2 separate regions of the Homo sapiens genome follow, and region 2 is linked to region 1. Evidence: fine-mapped expression QTL. A gene starts in region 1. The other region holds a variant in brackets. All regions are shown on one strand. Distances are from middle to middle. Region 1 holds the start of KDM7A (lysine demethylase 7A). Region 2 has its middle 49 kb from the start of KDM7A-DT.

Region 1 (5,371 bases):
GACCCTGGGCTCAAAAAAACCTATTTTAGACTCACTTCCACAGATATAAAGTTACACAAATTTATGTGTCAAAGCAGAGAGGGCATATTTGTTTTGGCCTTGCTCTCCCTCCTTCCCGTAAGCCCTCTGTATTTCCTATTTCCCTATTTACAAGTGTATACTTACATGTATTACAAAATTCTCCATCAAATACCTGGGGCTTTTCATGGTTATAGTGTTAAGTGACCTAAATTAAGATAAATACAATTCTAGTCTAAAATTTGGTAGCCTATCAAATCCGCATTGCATAATGAGACAAGTTTCTTTTTTCTTTTTTTTTGAGACGGAGTCTCACTCTGTCGCCAGGCTGGAGTGCAGTGGCGCGATCTCGGCTCACTGCAACCTCCGCTTCCCGGGTTCAAAAGATTCTCCTGCCTCAGCCTCCCAAGTAGCTAGGGTTACAGACATGCACCACCACGCCCAGCTAATTTTTGTATTTTTAGTAGAGACGGGGTTTCACCATGTTGGGGTTTCACCATGTTAGCCAGGATGGTCTCGATCTCTTTACCTCGTGATCCACCCGCCTCAGCCTCCCAAAGTGCTGGGATTACAGGCGTGAGCCACCAAGCCTGGCGAGACAAATTTTTATGCAGTTTAAACCGCCTCAAATTTCAAAAAATAGTTCTTTGAAAAAAAATAAGCATTTACATAATCACCAGGGATTCTGATTTTATTCTATATAGAACCTAAATGTTCGGATAATCTTTATTCTAGTTGCGTAGAATATGTTATGGAAACAGGATGTGGAAATAGAATTGGATATACAAGACTGCTAAAGATTATACGAAACGAGGACGCTGCCTTTCTTTTAAAGTGATAATTTACTGTGTCTTGTTTTCTGTTGTGAGAATCGGCTAGCCTGAAAACTGATTAAGTAAAACTGTACTTGAAAATTAAGTAAAACTTAACTACACCTAGCACTAAACACTGCAAAGAACATTGTGATTTACATGGTTTTCTCTCCCTGGACCAGTAGAGGGAGACTAAGACATCTGGCCTGGTCTTGTAGTGTTTCTGTAAAATTGGGGAGGGGGGGAGCGGAGGCTGTATTTAAATGTCCTGCTGTCAATCAAAAGACACTTCCTACAATCACAGTCACCATATCTGCTATTACTCGTGAGCGTGCTCTCGCCAAGAGACAACACCAAACGGGGCCCGGGAAACCGGCTTCAACTAAAGGTGACCGCAGGCTTTGCCACAACACCCAAATAAGGACTTTGGGAGCCCAACCCCAACTAGTTTCTTTGTTTAAATGCCTGTGAATCCCTCCCACGCCGGAGTCAAGAGGCTGTGGCGCCGCCCTTTATTAGCCTCACACTTTGATTACAAAACACACGAGTCGGCGGCCTGGCTGCGGAGGCGGCCCGAGCTCTCAAACGTCAAACCCGGAGCGCGGCGGCGGCTGAATCAGAGGGCAGCGTCCGCCGCCGCCGCCAGCCGGCCCCGCAGCGTCCGCCCGGCCGACTCAAGTTCGCCGGCACCGGCGCCCGGGCACAGCCGCAGGCGGTCCCGGTGTCGCCAGCTTCGAGCGATGGCAACTGCACTCTTTGTAAAGTTTAAGCCGCGGCGCGAGGGCAACGCAGGGGGTCCGGAGAAGCGTTCCCTTCGGGCCGCCGCAACCCACTCCATCTGCCCCAGTCCCGGCGACCCGGGTGTGTGCGGGGGCCCAGGACCGCGACCCGGGTCAACCTGCCGCCCGCCGGGGGCCCGGCCCCAACTTCCCCGGCACCTTTCAAGTCCCCGAGAGCGAGTGCCTCATCTGTTGCTCTGTTTACTCCGCGGAGCCCCGCCGAGCTGGCTGGCGCGGTCGCCTCTCCGGCCCGCCGCTGCCCCCGTCCCACTGGCCCAGGAAGTTTGATAAAGACGGGGAAGGGGGCGCGACAGGGACCCGCGGCGCGGAGGAGACGCGGGGCCGGGGCGACCCCATCGCCGCCCGGAAGGAAGGCAGGCGCGTCGGCCGGCCGGGCAGAGCGGCGGGGCGGCCGGCGACTCCGGCCGGAGCCCCGGGCGCGGCGGGGCGGGGCGGGGCGGCGGCGGCCCGGGCTGGCGAGGGGCTGCGGACCCGGCCGGCGCTCCGCCCGACGCCCCCGCCGCGCCCGCCCGGCCGCGTCCCCTCGCCCCAGGCTCCCCCTGCCAACTTATCCGCCGGCCCTCTTTGTTCGTGTTTGTTGTGGCGACTCTTCGCCCGGGCCAGGCGAGCCCACCGGCTCCCCTCTGGAGCCCGCCCGGCGAACCCGGGGCACCGCGCGCCCCACTGCCCGGCCGGGGGGCTAGGCACCGGGGCCCCCTGAAAGCTGGGCGCGGCGCGGCGGCCCGGCCCGAGGGAGGCGCGGGCGGCCGGCGGCGGCGGCGGTTGGTCGGTGGCCGGCGGTGGCGGCTGCGGGGCTGGAGGGGGTTTATTTACCTGCCGTGGAACCAGTCCTTGCAGATATCGCACTCGATCATGAAGCGGTTCACGTCGTACGGCTGCCGGCACACACAGTACACGGGCGGGGGCGGCGGAGGCGCCGAGGCCCGGCCGGGAGCCGCCACCGACACGGCTGCCGCGGCGGCTCCAGCTGCTGCTCCCGCGGCCACCGCCGCCGCCGCTCCGGCCATCTTTAAAAAACACACACACGCTCGCTCGCTACTCCGCTCGCCGACTGGAGCGAGCGCAGCCGCCAGCCAGCGCCGCCTCCTGCAGCAGCCGCGGCGGCGGCGGCGCCTCAGTGCGCGCGCGCGAGGCCGCGGCGGCTGGCGGAGGGGGAGGAGGCGCGCGCGACGCGCGAGGCCCAGACTCGGCTGCTTCCGGCGCTCGGCGCGGGGCCGTGCGTCTCGCGCACGTCTCTGGCGCCGGCGCGCGCTCCCCGCTCCTCTCCGCGACGGCCGGGCGGAGGGAGCTGTTGAAGGGCACGCAGGCGGCTGCGGGGGCGGAGGGAGCTGAGGCCCCGTGAGGACACGCGCGGTGGTGGCGGTGGCGGCGGGCGCGCGGCCGCAGCCGGAGGAGGACGGCGGGAGCGTGCGAGGAGCTGGCTCGGTTATTTCGGAGCGAGAGCCGAGGCCGGGGGAAGTTCCTGCGGAGTGCTCAAGGGCAGAAGAGGTGCCGCGTCCCGAAGAGGGGAAGCGGAGAAGTTTGCTGCTGCCCGGGTCGCCTCGCGACGCTGAGAGAATCGCCCAGCCCTCCGCAGCCGCCCAGCGAGAACCGGAGCTGCGGCCCCGCACCGGCGTGAGTCCAGCTGAGCTGACACGCCGAGCCGGTTGTGCCTTTCCGAGGGAGGAATGTGCCGTGGAATCCAAACTTTGGAAAACGTCCCACCCGAATTCCCAGCGAGCAGCAAGGAGACCAGAGCGTCGATGGAGCCACCGTTAGTTGCGGGAGGGCTGTCCCCAAGAGGAATTCATCACTGTCGTCCGCTGGGAGGGACCAACCTTGAAATGGGGTTGGTGGAGAGAGGGATAGAGAAGAGCCGGCGTGCTTATAAATAACAAAACTTAGCTATGAACCCTTCCGATTCCCAAGTGGGGAAGATGGGGTAAAATTCTAAGTGACTTCTCGCTCCGAAGAGGGATACCACAAAAAGCGGAGCGCAGGGTACTTGGCGTATAATAAGCCATCAATAATTTATGGGTGAAATTGAGAGCCAAATATAAGATGATAAACTGAAGAATAAAAACAGCTGACAAATACTGTATAGAAAAGATTGCGTTGGAATCATAACTGTGGATTGGAAGTGATGTTAAGGATTATTGGATTGAGTATTTGTAGCTGAATTTCTGCTGGCATTTCTATCAGTGGGGAAAGCCCTCACAGCTCCATAGGTAATTTTTGTTAGGGGAGGAAGAAGTGTTGTTCTGTCACCCACCCCCAGGCAAAGAGTCGCTGATCTAATTCTCCATTTCTTTCTTTCTTTCCTTTCTTTCCTTCCTTCCTTCCTTCCTTCCTTCCTTCCTTCCTTCCTTCCTTCCCTCCCTCCCTTTCCTTTCCTTTCCTTTCCTTTCTTTCCTTTCTTTCTTTGAAACGGAGTTTCGTTCTTGTTGCCCGCGCTGGAGTGCAGTGCAGTGCTGTGATCTCGGCTCATTGCAACTTCCACCTCCCGGGTTCGAGGGATCCTCCTGCCTCAGCCTCCCAAGTAGCTGGGATTACAGGCGCACGCCACCGCACCCGGGTAATTTTGTATTTTTAATAGAGACGGGGTTTCACCATGTTGGCCAGGCTGTTTGAACTCCTGACCTCAAGTGATCCGCCCGCCTCGGCCTCTCAAAGTGCTGGGATTACAGGCGTGAGCCACCAAGTCCTGCCTAATCTCCTTTTTATAGTTGAGGAAAGCTAGTAACTTGACTGAAGTCTCATATATTAGAGCTGTAACTGAAGTTTTTAAGTGTCTCAATTCTGCAACTATTCGTTTTTCTATCACATCACTGTTTGGCATATATATAGCGGGAAAAGGAAAGGCTGGAAATTAGTTGACCACACACTGATTAAGCTTGAAACATATTTCTACTGGAGAAAAAAAGGTACTGTAATTTTGGCATAGGCATCACATATTGCTGGAGTGGAAAGACCCATGCACTCAGGTCCTGCTTTCTATAATCTGTGACCTCGGGCCAGTCACTCCATTTCTCCTGAACTAGATCACTGATGATCTGTTGAAAGAAAAAATATGGCTAGTAATGCCTTAATTATCTCACAGAGGTTTTACATGGAGCAAAAAGACAATGTATTTTTAAATGTACTTTGTTGAAGGTGTGTGTTGTCGAGACAATACAGCAGTGAAGAGAAGGCATGCAAAGCTGTCTTGTTGGAGTCTGGCTAAAGAGCACCAAAGCAGCCTGTTGTGGGATGTCCTCTGGGGGCCACCTGGACTTGCTATGTTAACATGGAGGGACTAGGCAGGGGTATGAAGAAGGAAGCCCAGCAGAGCAGGAGGCAGCAGCAACAATGAGAGATTGGTTATCCATATGACTTGGATCTGTGTCCCCACCCAAATCTCATGTTGAATTGTAATCCCCAATGTTGGAGGTGGGGACTGGTGGGAGGTGACTGGATCATGGGGGTGGATTTCTTATGAATGGTTTAGTACCATCCACTTTGTATTGTCCCCGTGGTAATGAGTGAGTTCTTAAGAAATCTGGTCATTGAAAAATATGTGGCACCTCCTCCCTCTCTCTTTTGCTCCTGCCCCGGCTATATGATGCAATTTGTCTTCAGCCATGATTGTAAGTTTCCCGAGGCCTCCCCAGAAGCTGAGCAGATGCCAGCATCATGCTTCCTGTACAGCCTGCCTTCCATGAGCCAATTAAACTTCTTTCCTTTACAAATTACACAGTCTCAGATATTTTTCTCTTTTTTTTT
Region 2 (5,371 bases), 49 kb after region 1:
CCCTGCAGAAGTATTCCCTGGGTCTTTCAGGGAGTCCTCAAAAGGGTCCCCGACATCTGTTGAACCAATCAGTCCCAGTCATCATTGTATCCTTCCTCTGGCCTGTCTTCTGTGGCTTGAGGTCCACCAATACGAGCCTTGGGGCCACTACCTCTAAGACACAGTGCCCATGGGGCTGCCAGGCTCCAGGTCCGGGGCTCCGTTGGTGCTCTAGATCCCTACACCCTGCGTGACCCAGCAGTGCTGATTCTGTGCACGGATGGAGAAAATGCACCTTCCACCCTCAGCCACTCCGTTATCTCCTGCAAGCAACTTTCAGCAACAACTCCCACACCCTGCCAAAAAAACAACCACTGACAAAAACATCAGTTTCCACAGGAGTGAGCTCAGCCGTTCACACCTTCAGACAACATCTCCCCTGGACTCAGGACTGCCTCAGCCTGAATGCCTGATTAACACGCCCAAGCCAGAACTGTGAAGCCCCTCAGAGGGGAACAACAAGAGAGCACAGCTGCCTGTCCCGGAGGCCTTCATGAAACCAAAGGACTTCACCCCCACAGTGAACTGAAACATCCACCTCCAAACCCAGAAAACTGCTGGCCACTTTCAAAAGACACCTCCTCCTCCCTCTCAGGAGCTGGGCCACGCTGCAGCCTAAGGCACCTCTGTCCACGTTGGAGGAGGAGGCCAGAGGGACCACCTAGGGAAAAAAAAATAAAGCATTCAGAGTCAAAAAATACTGTTGATTGCAGTGTGGCAGAGGTGCTAGGGCAATGGGGGAACACATAGGTTCAGAGAAAATCAGACAAATGCAAAAAAGAAACTGCCATTAAGTCCAGAAGGAGAAAAGGGTTGTTTAATCACAGAGTGTTGTCCTAGAACACTACATGGCTCAGAGGTGAGCCATGCCCCCTCCTAACACTACATACCTCCTCCTAATAATGTGAACAGTTGTCATTTATTTCATAAAGTACTGGAATACAAGGATACAGAAGGGGGTATAGGAAGGAGAGCGTTTCCTCCGCTACCATGATTGGAAGTTAACAAGTAGTGTGCAAAGTCGAAAATCAAGAAACAGTAATGTGGCTGGACGTGGTGGCTCACACCTGTAATTCCAGCACACCTGTAATTCCAGCACTTTGGGAGGCTGAGGCAAGCAGATCACCTGAGGTCAGGAGTTCGAGACCAGCCTGGCCAACATGGTGGAACCCCATCTCTACTAAAAATACAAAAATTAGCTAAGTATAGTGGCGCACACTTGTGATCCCAGCTACTTGGGAGGCTGAGGCAGGAGAATTGCTTGAACCTGGGAGGCAGAGGCTGCAGTGAGCTGAGGTCACCCCACTGTACTCCAGTCTGGGCAACAGAGTGAGACTCCATCTCAAAAAAAAAAAAAAAAAAAAAGGAAAGAAAAGAAATAGTAATGTAAGCATATTGTTTAGAAAAATGGTGGAAAATACAAGAAAAATGGCTACAGAGTTGGCAGTGCCGGCCTTCAGGAAGACAGCCTTGGGGAACAAGAGGCTAAGCGCAATTGTAATTTTTCATTATACTTTTTATGTATTTATTCTACTTTGCTTTTTATAGCTATGTACATGTAGCATTCTGTTAGAGATAATTTTATATAAAACAAGTCCTGACCAGGCATGGTGGCTCACACCTGTAATCCCAACAATTTGGGAGACCAAGGTGGGCAGATAACTTGAGCCCAAGAGTTCAAGACCAGCCTGGACAACATAGTGAGACCTCATCTCTAAAAAAAATTTAAAAAATTAGCCAGGCAGGTGGTGTGTGTCTGCAGCCCCAGCTACTGAGAAACCTGGGAGGTAGAGGCAGCAATAAGTCATGATCACGCTGCTGCACTCCAGTCTTTGCAACAGAGTAAGACCCTGTCTCAAAAAAAGAAACCAAAAAAAAAAAAAAAAGAAAAGGAAAATGAAAGAAAACAGATTTTCTCAGCCTCTACAAAGGCAGGTTTCAAAAACCTCAGGGCTCTATCACAGCTAGAGCTGTCATCAGATACGTTGCCATGTGTATTACTTTGCTAGAGCAAAGTAACAAAGTACTACAGACTAGGCAGCTTAAACAACAGTAAAGCATT[G/C]TCTCACAGTTCTGGAGGCTGGACGGCCGAGATCCGGATGTCAGCAGGATGGGTTCCCTCTGAGGGCTGTGAGTGAGAATCTGTTCCAGGCATCTCCCTGAGCTGCTGGTGGTTGCCAGCAATCTATGGGGTTCCTTGGCTTGTAGAAGAAGCACCCTGATCTCTGCCTTCATCTTCACATGCCATTCTCCCTGTGTGCATATCTGTGCCCAAATTTCCTTCTTTAGTTTTTATTTTTATTTTTGAGATGGGGTCTCATTCTGTTACCCAGGCTGGGGTATAGTGGTGCAATCATAGCTCACTGTAGCCTTGACCTCCCTGGCTCAAGCAATCCTCCTACCTCAGCCTCCTGAGTTAAGCTGGGGCCACAGGCATATGACACTGCACCTGGCTAGTTTGTTAAAAATTTTGTATTCTCTGTAGAGATAGTGTCTCACTATGTTGCCCAGGCTGGTCTCAAACTCCTAGGCCCAATCGATCCTCCTACCCCAGCCTCCCAAAGTTCTAGGATTATAGGCAGGAGCCACTGCACCTGGCCTAATGGATCAGGGACCACCCTACTCCAGTATGAACTCATCTTAACTAATTACATGTGCAATGACCATATTTCCAAATAAGGTCACATTCTGAGGTACTGGGGGTAAGGACTTCAGCATATGAATGCGGGGGGCAGTAGCAGTAGGAGGAACACAATTTAGCCCAACAAACTGTTAAAACTGTGGAGTGTTATTGTCATATACTTTAAAACAAATTGGCCACCCTGCAGGTCCTGTGTCTTAACATGGCTGCCTTCCTATAATACTGACTGGTACACTTGCTCCCAGAGCTCCCAATTCAACTCTGCAACAGCCCCAACTCTCTTCATTTCTCCCTGAACACACACCCACTGAAAGGTACTCTTGCTCCCTCCCCTCAGCCCCCACATTAACACCTGTCACCCTGTGGTGCTGCTGTGCCTATGTCCTGATTCCTTTGCACAGATCCCTGCTCACTAATTGAGCCTTATCTCTTCTCCCTCTCCCATTGATCCAGCCAGTCCTTTCCTCCTTCTTCTTAGATCAGGGGTGTCCGATCTTTTGGCTTCCCTGGGCCATACTGGAAAAAGAAGAATTGTCTTGGACCACACATAAAATATATTAACAATAGCTGATGAACTAAAATAAATAAATAAAATCACACAAAAAAGTCTCATGACATTTAAAGAAAGTTAACAAATTTGTGTTGGGCCACATTCAAAGCTGTCCTGGGCCGCAGACAGCCCATGGGCTGGACAAGCTGGCCTTAGATAGATTGAGACCAGGAAGCCCCCAACTTCCCCCATAATAGAACTCGTAAACTGAATCTCAGCACAAAAGGATCATCCTCCAGTGGCTGAGTACACTAGAAGCTTGAGTCCTCTGCTCATGGGGCCACTTCCTAGTTGGGTAATGGACAACTTAACCTCCCTGTGGCTGTTTCCCTACCTGTAAAGTGGGACTAATAATAGTAACCCACATCATAGGCTTACATGACATAAAGCATGTGAATCTCCTAGCACAGTGCCTAGAACACAGTAGGTATTTAATAAATACCATTTGTTACTATTTTACTATTACCAGGTGTTACTTTTTATCTTCTTTCATTGAATCATGTCCAGAGCAAAGCAGGGCTGTGCTAGACCTCCAAACCGCCTTTGACTCAAAAGAGAGGCCCCCGCTGGGCTGGGCGTGGTGGCTCACACCTGTAATCCTAACTCTTTGGGAGGTCAAGTCGGAAGGATCCCTTGAGCCCAGGAGTTCAAGACCAGCCTGGGCAACACAGGAAGACCCTGTCTCTATTAAAAAAAAAAAAAAAAAAAGCTAGCCATGGTGGCTCACACCTGTAATCCCAGCACTTTGGGAGGCCGAGGTGGTGGATCACCTGAGGTCAGGAGTTCGAGACCAGCTTGGCCAACATGGTGAAACCCCATCTCTACTAAAAATACAAAAAAAATTAACCAGCATGGTGGCAGGTGCCTGTAATCCCAGCTACTTGGGAGGCTGAGGCAGCAGCATCGCTTGAACCCGGCAGGCAGACGTTGCAGTGGCCGAGATCACGCTATTCCACTCCAGCCTGGGTGACGGAGTGAGACTCTGTCTCAAAAAACAAAAGAAAGAGAGAGGACCCCATTGGGTCTGTGCCGTGCATCTCAGCTACCAATGCTTCCGCATCCTCCTGGTTCTGTCCTGCTAACAACCAACAGGACAGCTCAACCTGCCTGCTTTCCTCCTGGTCTCCCAGGGCACATCTGTCTCTGGAACGGCCCTCATCCCACTCTGCCTCACTCACACGATTCCTATTAGCCTCTTAACTCAGCGTGGTCTTCGGGAGCACACCCTTCAACCCAAAAGCAGCACTTTTAAAACACGTTTAAAAAGTGATTTAGTAAATAATGTTGATTTCTTTTGTGAAATTTTTAAAGACAAAGTCAAGTTACGTTACCCATGCCATAACAACGGAAGCAAAAACAGAAACCTATATTCCATTCCATTTTAAACTCAGGGACACCCAAGCACCCAGCTGAGGGCTCAGCAGCTTGTTTTTGCAATGTTCTACAGTGGGAAAGAAAGGAACAAAAAGCCTAGGAGTGGATCTCTAGAGAAAGACATTGTATATTTTGTCTGAAAGCATCTTACTCAGGAACTCCAGTTCCAACACCGTTTGGAGATGGTTCTAATCAGAGAAAAGCAAAACCCTAAAACATTTCTCAAACAGTTCTTCACGATCTGCTGCCTAAGACTCTTGTAGTACTTGCCACAGCAATATAGAGAACGTTTAAGCTTCTTATTTGTAATAAAAAGTGACAAGAGGCCAGGCGCGGTGGCTTACGCCTGCAATCTCAGCAATTTGGGAGGCCAAGATGTAGGGATCACCTGAGGTCAGGAGTTAGAGACCAGCCTGGCCAACACGGCGAAACCCTGTATCTACTAAAAAATACAAAAAAAAAAAAAAAAAAAAAAAAAAAAAGCCAGGCACAATGGCTCACGCCTGTAATCCCAGCACTTTGGGAGGCTGAGGTGGACGGATCACGAGGTCAGGAGTTCGAGACCAGCCTGACTAACATGGTGAAACCCCGTCTCTACTAAAAATATAAAAATTAGCCGGGCATGGTGGCGTGCGCCTGTAATCCCAGCTACTCAGGAGGCTGAGGCAGGAGAATCACTTGAACCCGGGAGGCGGAGGTTGCAGTGAGCCAAGATCACGCCATTGCACTTCAGCCTGTGTGACAGAGCGAGACTCCGTCTCAAAATA

The links. PIP is the estimated chance that this variant, and not a neighbour inherited with it, causes the effect. A credible set is the group of variants that fine-mapping cannot tell apart.
Region 2: its variant is the best candidate, but not a certain one, in a credible set for the expression of KDM7A in whole blood (TOPMed, PIP 0.64).

What each region holds. Positions count from the first base shown.
Region 1 is chr7:140,174,301-140,179,671 of GRCh38, forward strand. It overlaps KDM7A (lysine demethylase 7A), which reads right to left and starts at 2,683. Exons shown (of 20, transcript NM_030647.2): 1 at 2,444-2,683. The coding sequence starts at 2,637. It overlaps KDM7A-DT (KDM7A divergent transcript), which reads left to right and starts at 2,961. Exons shown (of 1, transcript NR_024451.1): 1 at 2,961-5,340. RefSeq lists silencers at 1,412-1,691, 1,702-1,881, 2,522-2,621, 2,662-3,091 and an enhancer at 2,316-3,239.
Region 2 is chr7:140,223,654-140,229,024 of GRCh38, forward strand. No RefSeq gene overlaps it. Among named protein-coding and RNA genes, the nearest start is that of KDM7A-DT, 49 kb to the left of the region's middle. The variant G/C (reference allele first, on the strand shown) is at 2,102.